Regions from separate parts of the Homo sapiens genome. Here region 1 is linked to region 2. Evidence: fine-mapped expression QTL. A gene starts in region 2. The other region holds a variant in brackets. All regions are shown on one strand. Distances are from middle to middle. Region 1 overlaps BCKDHA (branched chain keto acid dehydrogenase E1 subunit alpha). Region 2 holds the start of TMEM91 (transmembrane protein 91).

What was found. PIP is the estimated chance that this variant, and not a neighbour inherited with it, causes the effect.
Region 1: its variant is the best candidate, but not a certain one, in a credible set for the expression of TMEM91 in whole blood (TOPMed, PIP 0.87).

The regions. Positions count from the first base shown.
Region 1 is chr19:41,404,343-41,409,715 of GRCh38, forward strand. All of the region lies in intron 1 of BCKDHA (branched chain keto acid dehydrogenase E1 subunit alpha), which reads left to right. Among named protein-coding and RNA genes, the nearest start is that of BCKDHA, 9.2 kb to the left of the region's middle. RefSeq lists enhancers at 2,229-3,183, 3,184-4,139. The variant C/T (reference allele first, on the strand shown) is at 2,023.
Region 2 is chr19:41,373,701-41,379,073 of GRCh38, forward strand. TMEM91 (transmembrane protein 91) reads left to right here and starts at 2,833. Exons shown (of 4, transcript NM_001098821.2): 1 at 2,833-3,154; 2 at 4,581-4,819. The coding sequence starts at 4,610. RefSeq lists a silencer at 2,949-3,078.

The DNA.
Region 1 (5,373 bases), 31 kb after region 2:
GCAGTGGCACAATCTCGGCTCACTGCAAGCTCTGCCTCCCAGGTTGACGCCATTCTCCTGCCTCAGCCTCCCGAGTAGCTGGGACTACAGGCGCCCGCCACCACGCCCGGCTAATTTTTTGTATTTTTAGTAGAGATAGGGTTTCACCTTATTAGCCAGGATGGTCTCGATCTCCCGACCTCATGATCCGCCCGCCTCGGTCTCCCAAAGTGCTGGGATTACAGGCGTGAGCCACCACGCCCAGCCTAATTTTATTTATTAATTTATTTGAGATGGAGTCTCACTCTGTCACCCAGGCTGGAGTGCAGTGGTGCGATCTTGGCTCACTGCAACCTCCACCTCCCAGGTTCAAGCGATTCTCCTGCCTCAGCCTCCTGAGTAGCTGGGACTATAGGTGCGTGCCACCACGCCTGGCTAATTTTTGTATTTTTAGTAGAGATGGGGTTTCACCATCGTGATCAGCCTGACAGGCTGGTCATGAACTCCTGACCTTAAGTGATTCACCTGCCTCAGCCTCCCAAATCTGCTGGGATTACAGGCATGAGCCACCGCACCCAGCCATATTATTTCTGTATTTTCATTTGGCTTACCTGTCAACTTGACACTTTTTTGTTTTTTTAGGCTAGTCAGGTGAAGCAATGTGAGTAAGATCACCTGTCTTGATTATAACTTGTGTGTTCAGTGTTTGTCATTCATCCCTCCCTGTCTCTAGCCTTCAGTTCAGGGCATGATTTGGAGCAAATGTTCAGTATCTGTTTAACAAGAACAATCATGAGAAATACTTACTCACTACTTGTGTTTATGAAACATTATGTGCCAGGCACTGGGCTGAGCAATCCACACAGGTCAACTCGGTTAATCCTCATGACAACCCCTGAGATAAGTACTTATACCACCCTCGGTGTACACAGGAGGAAACTGAGGCTCAGGGAGTTTTTCTTTAAAAATTTTTTCTTTTTTTTTTCCTTGAGACAGGTCTTACTTTGTCACCCAGGCTGGAGTGCAGTGGTGTGATCTTGGCTCACTGCAGCCTCTTGGGCTCCAGCGATCCTCCCACCTCAGCCCCTCAAGTAGTTGGGGAGTACAGGTGTGCACCACCATGCCCAGCTAATTTTTTGTAGGGATGGGGTCTTGCCATGTTATCCAGGCTGGTCTTGAACTCCTGGGCTCAAGCGATCCTCCCTCCTTGGCCTCCCAAAGTGCTGGTATTACAAGTGTGAACCACCACACCTGGCCTTAAATTTTATTTATATATTTATTTTTGTAGAGACGAGGTCTCACTATGTTTCCCAGGCTGGCCTCGAACTCCTGGACTCAAGTGATCCTCTTGCCTCAGCCTCCAGAGTAGCTAGAATTACAGGCGTCTGCCACTGCACTTGGCTCAGGGAGTTTAAGTCACATAATCAGGCAGCGGTCTGCTCAGTTAGAGTCCATGCGCTTAGCCATGGTGCCTTCAAGTGACTCCACCAGGGTCACCCCAGTACTTCCTGGGCAGACCAGACCATCCAGAGCGGGCAGGTTGTGCTTTCCTGCATGGTGGGAGAGGACGTGGCATGAAGCTTTGTGTAAATCTGTGCAGCCTCTGCCATTGTAAATCACTGGCCACCGGGACAGACTCCCCCACCCCCTTCCAAAAACTAGAGGAACAGATGGGTGGAGTCGCATCCTTCCTCTGCAGGCATTTGGCCACCCACTCCCATTATGGAGCATTTCCTCAGGACCAGGCACAGCGTGGAGCCCTTTGCATAGCTCACTGAATTGGGGCAGCAACCCTGGGGCTGGGGACTACCATTATCTCCACCAGCCCAGCAAAGAGGGGAGGAGGGTACAGCCGAGACCCAGCTGCAGTATGTGGAGCACACTGGGGTGCCGTGAAGATAGCTGTCCAGCCTCTAGAGGCTGACAGTCCTGCCCTGACACAGTGGTTTGTTCTCAGACTCTGGCCTCCCCTCTTAGTGCCCGTCTGAAGACTTCAGCCTTCGGTCCTCTTCCATCAGCATGCCGTCTCCCCTGTGCCTCAGT[C/T]TCCCTCTCTGGAGTATCTGCTGGGGCCACAGTTTGGTTTTATTGTTCTTTGAGACAGGGTATCACTTTGTTGCCCAGGCTGGAGTGCAATGGTGCAGTCATGGCTCACTGCAGCCTTGACCTCCTGGGCTCAAGCCATCCTCTCACCTCAGCCTCCCGCAACTCCAGTATCTGGACTACATGTAAATGCCACCATTCCCAGCTAATTTTTTTTTTTTTTTTTAGATAGAGTCTCACTCTTGTCACCCAGGCTGGAGTGCAATGGTGCCATCTTGGCTCACTGCAACATCCGCCTCCCAGGTTCAAGCCATTCTCCTGCCTCAGCCTCCCAAGTAGCTGGGATTACAGGCACCTACCATCATGCACGGCTGTTTTTTGTATTTTTAGTAGAGACAGGGTTTCACTATGTTGGCCAGGCTGGTCTTGAACTCCTGACCTCAGGTGATCTGCCTGCCTCGGACTCCCAAAGTGCTGGGATTACAGGCGTGAGCCACCACGCCCAGCCTTCCTGGCTAATTTAAAAATTTTTCAGAGACGAGGGTTTTGCCTAGGCTGGACTCACTATGTTGCCTAGGCTGATCTCGAACCACTGGCCTTAAGTGATCCTCCCACCTCAGCCTCCCAAAGTACTGGGATTACAGGCATGAGCCGCTGCACATCGCCACAGTTTGATTTTAGTATCCACTTTAAGGTGCAGTTAGTTCTTCCCAGCTCCTCTTTTCCCTATCTCATACAGTGTAGTCACTTCCCTTTCTCCCACTTCTCACCTTCCTAGATTTTGTTTTTCTCTCTCTTACCAAGTTTTGAGTATGTAATACGTCCCAGATCGGTGCTGAACCCCTGGTGTGAGTTAACTTAGCAACTTTTCACGTGGTGTTCTGCAGCCTTCTTACAGATAAGGAAATTCAGAGAGGTGAAGTGTTTTTGCAGAGAGCCACACAATGAGCTAAGAAATTAGAACCCAGGGCAGTTGAACTCCAGAGCCAGGGAACTTAACAGCCCATTCATGCATTCACTCAGGAATTCCCTCTTGAGTGCCTGCTGTGAAGGCAACCTGGACGCTGTCTCTGCCTTCCTGGGATTGTGGTGTGTGTGGGAGACAGACACGAAACAAAGCAATCTTCTAGGTCAGTGTCTGGCTATGCTGGGTACTCAGAAGGGGGAAGCACTGTGCTGCAAGAGGCCGGCTGTTTCCTCCTCACAAGGGGAGGCCTGCAGTGACATTGCCAGGCCTGAATCTGCCCTGCCATTGGGAGTGTAATTTCCTCACGACTACAAATGCAAATAAATACACACACTGAACATGCTACCCCGCTAGAACTGTGGACAGCTTGTTCACTGCAGTTAAAGGAAGACGGAGGGACACATTTGAGCACGCATGTGTGAGATCCAGCTTGTGGCAAACCCTGCCATTCTTTAACATCTGTGGGAAGTGAAGCCACCATTACTGACCTCGGAGGAATCCCGGGAGTAGTGGGAAGAAAAGTTGCAGATGTTTGAAAATCAGGCTGCAGGGGCAGTTGGGGTGAGGAGCATGGATGTCTAGGAGCCTGAATCTCAGCGTTGGAAGCCCAGTTCTGATGTAATTTTTTTTTTTTTTTTTTTTTTTGAGACAGGGTCTCACTTTGTCCCCCAGGCTGGAGTGCAGTGGCACAGTCTCAGCTCACTACAGCCTCATCCTTCCAGGTTCAAGCAGTCCTCCTGCCTCAGCCTCCCAAGTAGCTGGGACCACAGGCATGTGTCACCATGCCTTTCTAATGTTTGTATTTTTTTGTGGAGACAGGGTTTCTCACTGTTGCCCAGGCTGGTCTCAAACTCCTGAGCTCATGTGATCCTCCTGCCTTGGCCTTCCAAAGTGCTAGGATTACAGGCGTAAGCCACTGCCCAGCATCCCCACCTTTTTTTTTTTTTTTTTAAATTTGTGGTTTGGTGCAGGTTATTTTACCTCCCCAGGCCTCGGTTTCCTCATCTACTCAAGGGCAATGGCAGATAATCAACCTCACAAATTCCCCGAGGAGTTAGTAGGCTTGTGCCTGCCAGGCTCAGCTGGCTTACAGCAGGTGCTTCATAAGGGGGAGCTATTGCAACGCCTCGGCTGGTTCTAGGCTGCCTAGCTCCAGAGCTAAGAGTCCCAGTGGGTTCATATCCCTTTGAGCATTTATAGGCTTCTCACAGGTCTCCTGGGCTTTCTCAGCCATTCCTCATCTGACCTGAGGAGGTGTGATGTCCTTGCAGGACTCCTCCAGCCCCTCTGAGCTTTTTTTTTTGTTTGAGACAGCATGTTGCTCTGTTGCCCAGGCTGGAGTGCAGTGGTGTGATCATGGCTTACTGCAGCCTCCACCTCCTGGGGTCAAGCGATTCTCCCACCTCAGCCTTCCAAGTAGCTGGGACTATAGGTGTATGTTACCATGCTTGAGTAATTTTTAAAATTTTTTGTAGAGATGTGATCTCAGGCTGGTCTTGAACTCCTGGGCTCACCTGGGCTCAAGTAATCCTTGAGCCCAAAGTGTTGGGATTACAGATATGAGCCACCTTGCCAGGCCCTGAGCTCCTTCTGTCTTCCATGAAGGACACACTATTCCTTGCCTTTTGTCTTTTTTTGTGTGTGTGGCAGGGTCTCTGTTGCCCAGGCTGGGATGTGTTGGTGCAATCTGGGCTTATTGCAACCTCCGCTTCCCGGATTCAAGTGATTCTCCTGCCTCAGCCTCTTGAGTAGCTGGGATTACAGGTGTGCGCAACCACGCCCAGCTAATTTTTGTATTTTTGGTAGACATGGGGTTTCACCATGTTGGCCAGGCTGGTCTCAGCCTCCCGAAGTGTTGGGATTACAGGCATAAGCCACTGTGCCTGGCCACTTTTTGTCTTTTGCATGTTCTATACACCTTGCCGAGAATGTGCTTTCCCTGCCTCCTGGTTATCCCTCAGGTTTCAGCTCTAACATCACTTCCCCAGGGAAGCCTTACCCTCGCTTTCTTCTGCTATAGGATAATATGAACCACCATCATTGTTACTTGTTTAGTGTCTGCCCTCCCTGCTAGGCAGCAAGGACAGATATCTTGCCTGTCTTAGGTCCCCAGAACCCAGCACAGGGCTTGGAACATGTCAGGTGCTCAAATATTTGTTGAATGAGTCAGTCTGGGCTCGCAGAGGGAGCTGGGACCAGAGTAGAGTGGACACTGAAGCGTATGTAGCAGTTTGCCAGGCGATAGGGAAAGAGACCTTCTTGTAAAGCAAGCAGAGATGAGAGGGAGAAATGAGAATTGCTAAGATTGTTTTGAGCATTTGTTAGGTGGCTTACAGATGCTTTGCTGAACATTTTATTCATGTGATCTTGTTTAAGCCTCTCATTTC
Region 2 (5,373 bases):
TGGTGAAACTCCGTCTCTACTAAAAGTACAAAAATTAGCTGGGCATGGTGGCAGGTTCCTATAATCCCAGCTACTTGGGAGGCTGAGGTGGGAGAATGGCTTGAACCCAGGAGATGGAGGTTGCAGTGACCTGAGATCGTGCCACTGCACTCCAGCCTTGCTGACTGGGGTTTTGCTATGTCGCCCAGGCTGGTTTCGAACTCCTAGGCTCAAGCAGTCCTCCCTCCTCGGCCTCCCAAAGGGCTGGGATTACAGGCGTGGGCCACCGCACCTGGCCTACAGTATGCTTCATAGAAATATGAAAAGAATGAGAGCAAGGTTGAGATAGAAAGTAACAGGGCATCCCTCCTGAGTAAAACAATCCTGCCCCCTCACGCTCTCGTCTACCCTCCCGTGGGTCTCCCTGCTTCTGTCGTCTGCCAGAAACTGGCTGAGCCAAGTGCACTTGCAGACGCCATCTGTTCTCCCTGGGAGTGGGGCCGGTGCCAGCGCCAGCATCTGGACTCTTGGCAAGGAGCCCTGGAGCCCTGGAGCGAGGGAACTCCGGCCCCACAAAGGCCAGGGAATCCTCCAGTCTGGTGAGACGGAGGGCTTCTGGGAAGGGAGGCCTATACAAGGCTCCATGAAGGAGGTGGAAGCTTGCAAGACGATGATAGTCTTGTAATCAGTCCGATGGAGATGGATGTAAATAATAATATTAATAAACACCATCAAATGTGTTCAGAGTGCTTTCTTTGCCAGGCTTTGGATAAATGTTGGATATCTGTTCTTTTTATTTTTTATTTTTCTATTTCCTAGGCAGCACCTAAACCAAAATAGGTTCAGAGAGGCTCCCAATGTTGGACATTTGTTGTTGCAGCAACTCTAAGTACTCTACATATGTTATCACATAAGAGGCAAGGAGCATTATCCCCATTTTGTAGGTGAAGAAATAGGGGTTCAGAGAGGTGAAGGCATTGTCTAGAGGCCACACACTCAGTGACTTAAAGAGCCTGGAAAGGGGCCAGGAATGGTGGCTCACACCTGTAATCCCAGCACTTTGGGAGGCTGAGGCGGGTGGGTCACCTGAGGTCGGGAGTTCAAGACCAGCCTGACTCATATGGAGAAACCCCATCTCTACCAAAAATACAAAATTAGCCAGGTGTGATGGCGCATTCCTGTAATCCTAACTACTCGGGAGGCTGAGGCAGGAGAATCGCTTGAACCTGGGAGGCGGAGGTTGCGGTGAGCCGAGATCACGCCATTGCCCTCCAGCCTGGGCAACAAGAGTGAAACTCCATCTCAAACAAACAAACAAAGAGCCTGGAAAGGAAACCAGGTCTATGTGGGTCCAAATGCTGACTCATGAACATCACTGTACCACGTGACAATCAGAGCATCACCCCCTACTGGACCCCACTCCTCAGCCTTCTTTCCCTAGAAACTCCTAACCCACCTGCCTCTGCTTCCTCCTCACCCATTGGCTTAGCAAGGGCCACAGGAACACAGCCCGGGGTTACAATATGCTGGGCTTGGTACCAGCTGTTTACTGTGGCCAAGTGAGCATGCAAGTGAGCCCGTTTATTTTCTTTTCTTTTTTTTTTTTTTTTTTTTTTTTTGAGACGGAGTCTTGCTGTTTCCCAGGCTGGAGTGCAGTGGCGCGATCTCGGCTCACTGCAAGCTCCGCCTCCCGGGTCCACGCCATTCTCCTGCCTCAGCCTCCCAAGTAGCTGGGACTACAAGCGCCCGCCACCAAGCCCGGCTAATTTTTTGTATTTTTAGTAGAGACAGGGTTTCACCGTGTCAGCCAGGATGGTCTGGATCTCCTGACCTCGTGATCCGCCCGCCTCGGCCTCCCAAAGTGTTGGGATTACAGGCGTGAGCCACTGCGCCCGGCCCGTGAGCCCGTTTCTTTATCTGCAAAACAGGGATTAAAAACAAGCCAACACCCCTTCAGCACTCCTCCGCAAAAAAACACCCCAAAACAAAATAGGCCAGGCGCGGTGACTCACACCTGTAATCCCACCGCTTTGGGAGGCCGAGGCTGCAGTGAACCCAGGAGTCTGAGGCTGAAGCGAGCAATGATTGCGCCACTGCCTTCCAGCCTGGGCGATCAGAGCAAGACCCCGTCTTTTAAAAAATAATAATAAAAAAAAAATCTGCCGGGCGCGGTGGCTCACGCCTGTAATCCTAACACTTTGGGAGGCTGAGGCGGGCAGATCACCTGAGGTCAGGAGTTCAAGACCAACCTGACCAACACAGCGAAATCTCATCTACTAAAAATACAAAAATTAGCTGGGCGTGGTGGCTTGCCCCTGTAATCCCAGCTACTCGGGAGGCTGAGGCAGGAGAATCGCTTGAACCCGGGAAGCGGAGGTTGCGGTGAGCCGAGATCACTCCACTGCACTCTAGCCTGGGCGACAGAGCAAGACTCCGTCTCAAAAACAAAACAAAACAAACAAAAAAACCAAAGTAAAATAGCAGCGACAACAACAACAACAACAAGAAAAACCCGGAGCTGAGAGGAAGAATGAATGCGATGATGAATGTAAAGCGTTTAACACAGGGCTTGGGTACAGTCTGCCCTCAATGAACCAATGATGTACCCCTAGGCAATTTACCTAACCTCGGCTTGCCAGTTTCCTCCCGCGTGAAACAGGACAATAAACGATTATGCCTCTTAGGGTTGTGCTGAGGAATACATGTGTATGTAAGTTTATTTGCAAAGCACTTAGAACAGGGCGCACGGTCCTTGTTGCTGTTATTATTATTGGCTATTATTGCGCAAAGGGGAAGGGAGGCGGGGCCAAGCCAGGAAGGCCCTGGAGAATCCGGGGTGCCCCCTCCTCCGGCAGAGCTTGGGCCTGGGCTCACGAGGAAGGGGCTGCAGTTCTCCAAGGATTCCCGCCTGCTCCCAGACCCCCGGGAGTCGTAGGAACCCGTTCCTGGACGCTGACGTCGGCTTTCAGGGATCCCTCGCCGGACGCCGCGGAGGGACAGAGCCTGGGAAGCCGTCGCCCCGCCCCGTCCCCGCCCCCGCGCGCAGCGGGCCCGGGGCGCTGAGACCCGCGTAGAGCAAAGCGCAAGGTCCCAGCGCCCCTTGGATCCTCGGTGGCAGGGTCCGGGCAAGTGTCATTGCGAGGGTTCAGGAAGCCCCGGCCTGTGATCGTGAGCGGTGAGTGAGGGACGTAGGTGGGTGGGGGTCACAGTCCCTTCCCTGGGTCCTGGAGTTGGGGATGAGAGGGCAAAGCTTTGGCGAGGAAATCGGCTCAGTCAAGGTTTGGAATGAGCAGGCAGGAGGCTTGGGGACCTTCCAGGGGGATCGTAGGACGAGAAGAAGAATATTCTTTCTGGTTGTGTTGCGTGTGTACGTGTATGTGTGTGCTGGGGTTGAGGGTGTTTATGGGGGCGAGGTGTGCAAAGGATTCTGGAGAGCTGGTGCATGTGTGGGAGTTGTGTGGAGTCATAGGTGTGTGGGTGGAGTAGGGCAGGGGTGCCTGGGCCTGATGAGTGGGGCAGGCATGCCAGAGGTCATGAGAATAGGAGAGAGTGCCGGGGTGCATGTGTGCGTGTGTGCACAGGTGTCTGTGGTTTGTGATGCAGTGGGGAGTAGGGTTGTGCACGGAGTCAATTGGGATAAATGTGTAAGAAGGTTGGGGACCTGAAAGGGGTGTTTTCTGGGAGCTGATGTTTTGGGGCAAATATTCAAGGAGTCCTTTGGGAGATGAATGTGTGGAGGTGGAGGCTGGGCTTGCCTAGATGGGGCTGTGTGGCAGGGGACTTCGGGGGGCAGGTCTAGGGGACAGAGGATGGGGAATGTAGACTAGAGTGCAGTTCCAGGCAGCACTGGGGGTAGGGGATGGGTGTGTGTGTGACTGGGAGGGGTGCCTGGGCCTGGATAGGTGGTCACGCGGTATGAACCTGGGATGGATATTGGGGGTGTTTGTGGGGCAGGTAAGTGTGTAAGGCATGGTGCAACAGGTGCTGCAACTTATTGGGGTAAGTGTGATGGGTATGTGGCTTTTGCCTGAGAGAAATGCCCAGAATTTGGCTGGGTGCGGTGGCTCACGCCTGTAATCCCAGCACTTTGGGAGGCCAAGGCTGGTGGATCCCCTAAGGTCAGGAGTTCGGGACCAGCCTGGTTAACACAGTGAAACCCTATCTTTACTAAAAATACAAAAAAAAAAATTAGCCGGGCATGGTGGTGGGCGCCTGTAATCCCAGCTACTCGGGAGGCTGAGGCAGAATGGTTTGAACCCGGGAGGTGGAGGCTGCAGTGTGCTGAGATCATGCCACTGCACTCTAGCGGATCTGCAGTGGTGGATCTGCCTGGGCAACAGATGGAGACTTTGTCTCAAAAAAAAAAAAAAAAAAGAGAGAGAGAGAGAAATGCCCAAAATTGAATGTCCAGACCCCTGAGTTCTCTTCATAACCTGAGGCCAATCTTTTTTTCTCTCTGGGCCTCAGCTTCTGTATCTGTAAAATGGGTCTGAGGACCACTGCACTAACTAGTCTCTGCCTGAGTCTCTCTAAAGCAAGGGGTCAGAGGTTGAGTGAAGTGAGACTTTTACAACTTGTCTTTTTCTTCCCCCTACCCCTAGGAAACCCCTCCTGGAGTTTCCCCAAAGCCATGGACAGCCCTAGTCTTCGTGAGCTTCAACAGCCTCTGCTGGAGGGCACAGAATGTGAGACCCCTGCCCAGAAGCCTGGCAGGCATGAGCTGGGGTCCCCCTTAAGAGAGATAGCCTTTGCCGAGTCCCTGAGGGGTTTGCAGTTCCTGTCACCGCCTCTTCCCTCCGTGAGCGCTGGCCTGGGGGAACCAAGGCCCCCTGATGTTGAGGTAGGAAACAGCAGGCCTTAGTGGAAGGCACGGGAGGGGGCTGGGGTGAGCCCCACTAAGGCCAGCATCTGGCAGGTTGACAGCTGTGCCGATCTGCCTTAGGCCTGGAGTCTCACTTCCCAGCTGTGTGTGGGCTTCTGAGATTTCCAGTTACGGTTCTTCTTGTTTTATGTCTCTCATCTTTGTTGCCTGGCTTTTGGCTCTGTCTTCCCTCTGATCTCAGACTCCGCTGGTTGGTGTCTTCAGAGTGCATGCACCTCTGGCTTTTGTCCACCCTGCTGTCTCCCTCTTTGTGTGTGTGTGTGAGAGAGAGAGAGAGAGAGAGAGAGAGAGACAGGGTCTCGCTCTGTTGCCCAGGCTGGAGTGCAGTGGAGCGATCATAGTTTACTGCAACCTTGACCTCCCGGGCTTAAGCAATCCTCCCACCTCAGCCTCCTGAGTAGCTGGGACCACAGGCATGTGCCACCATGCCTGGCTAATTTTTTGGTGTTTTTTGTAGAGAAGAGGTTTTGTCATGTTGCCCAGGCTGGTCTCAAACTCCTGAGCTCAAGCAA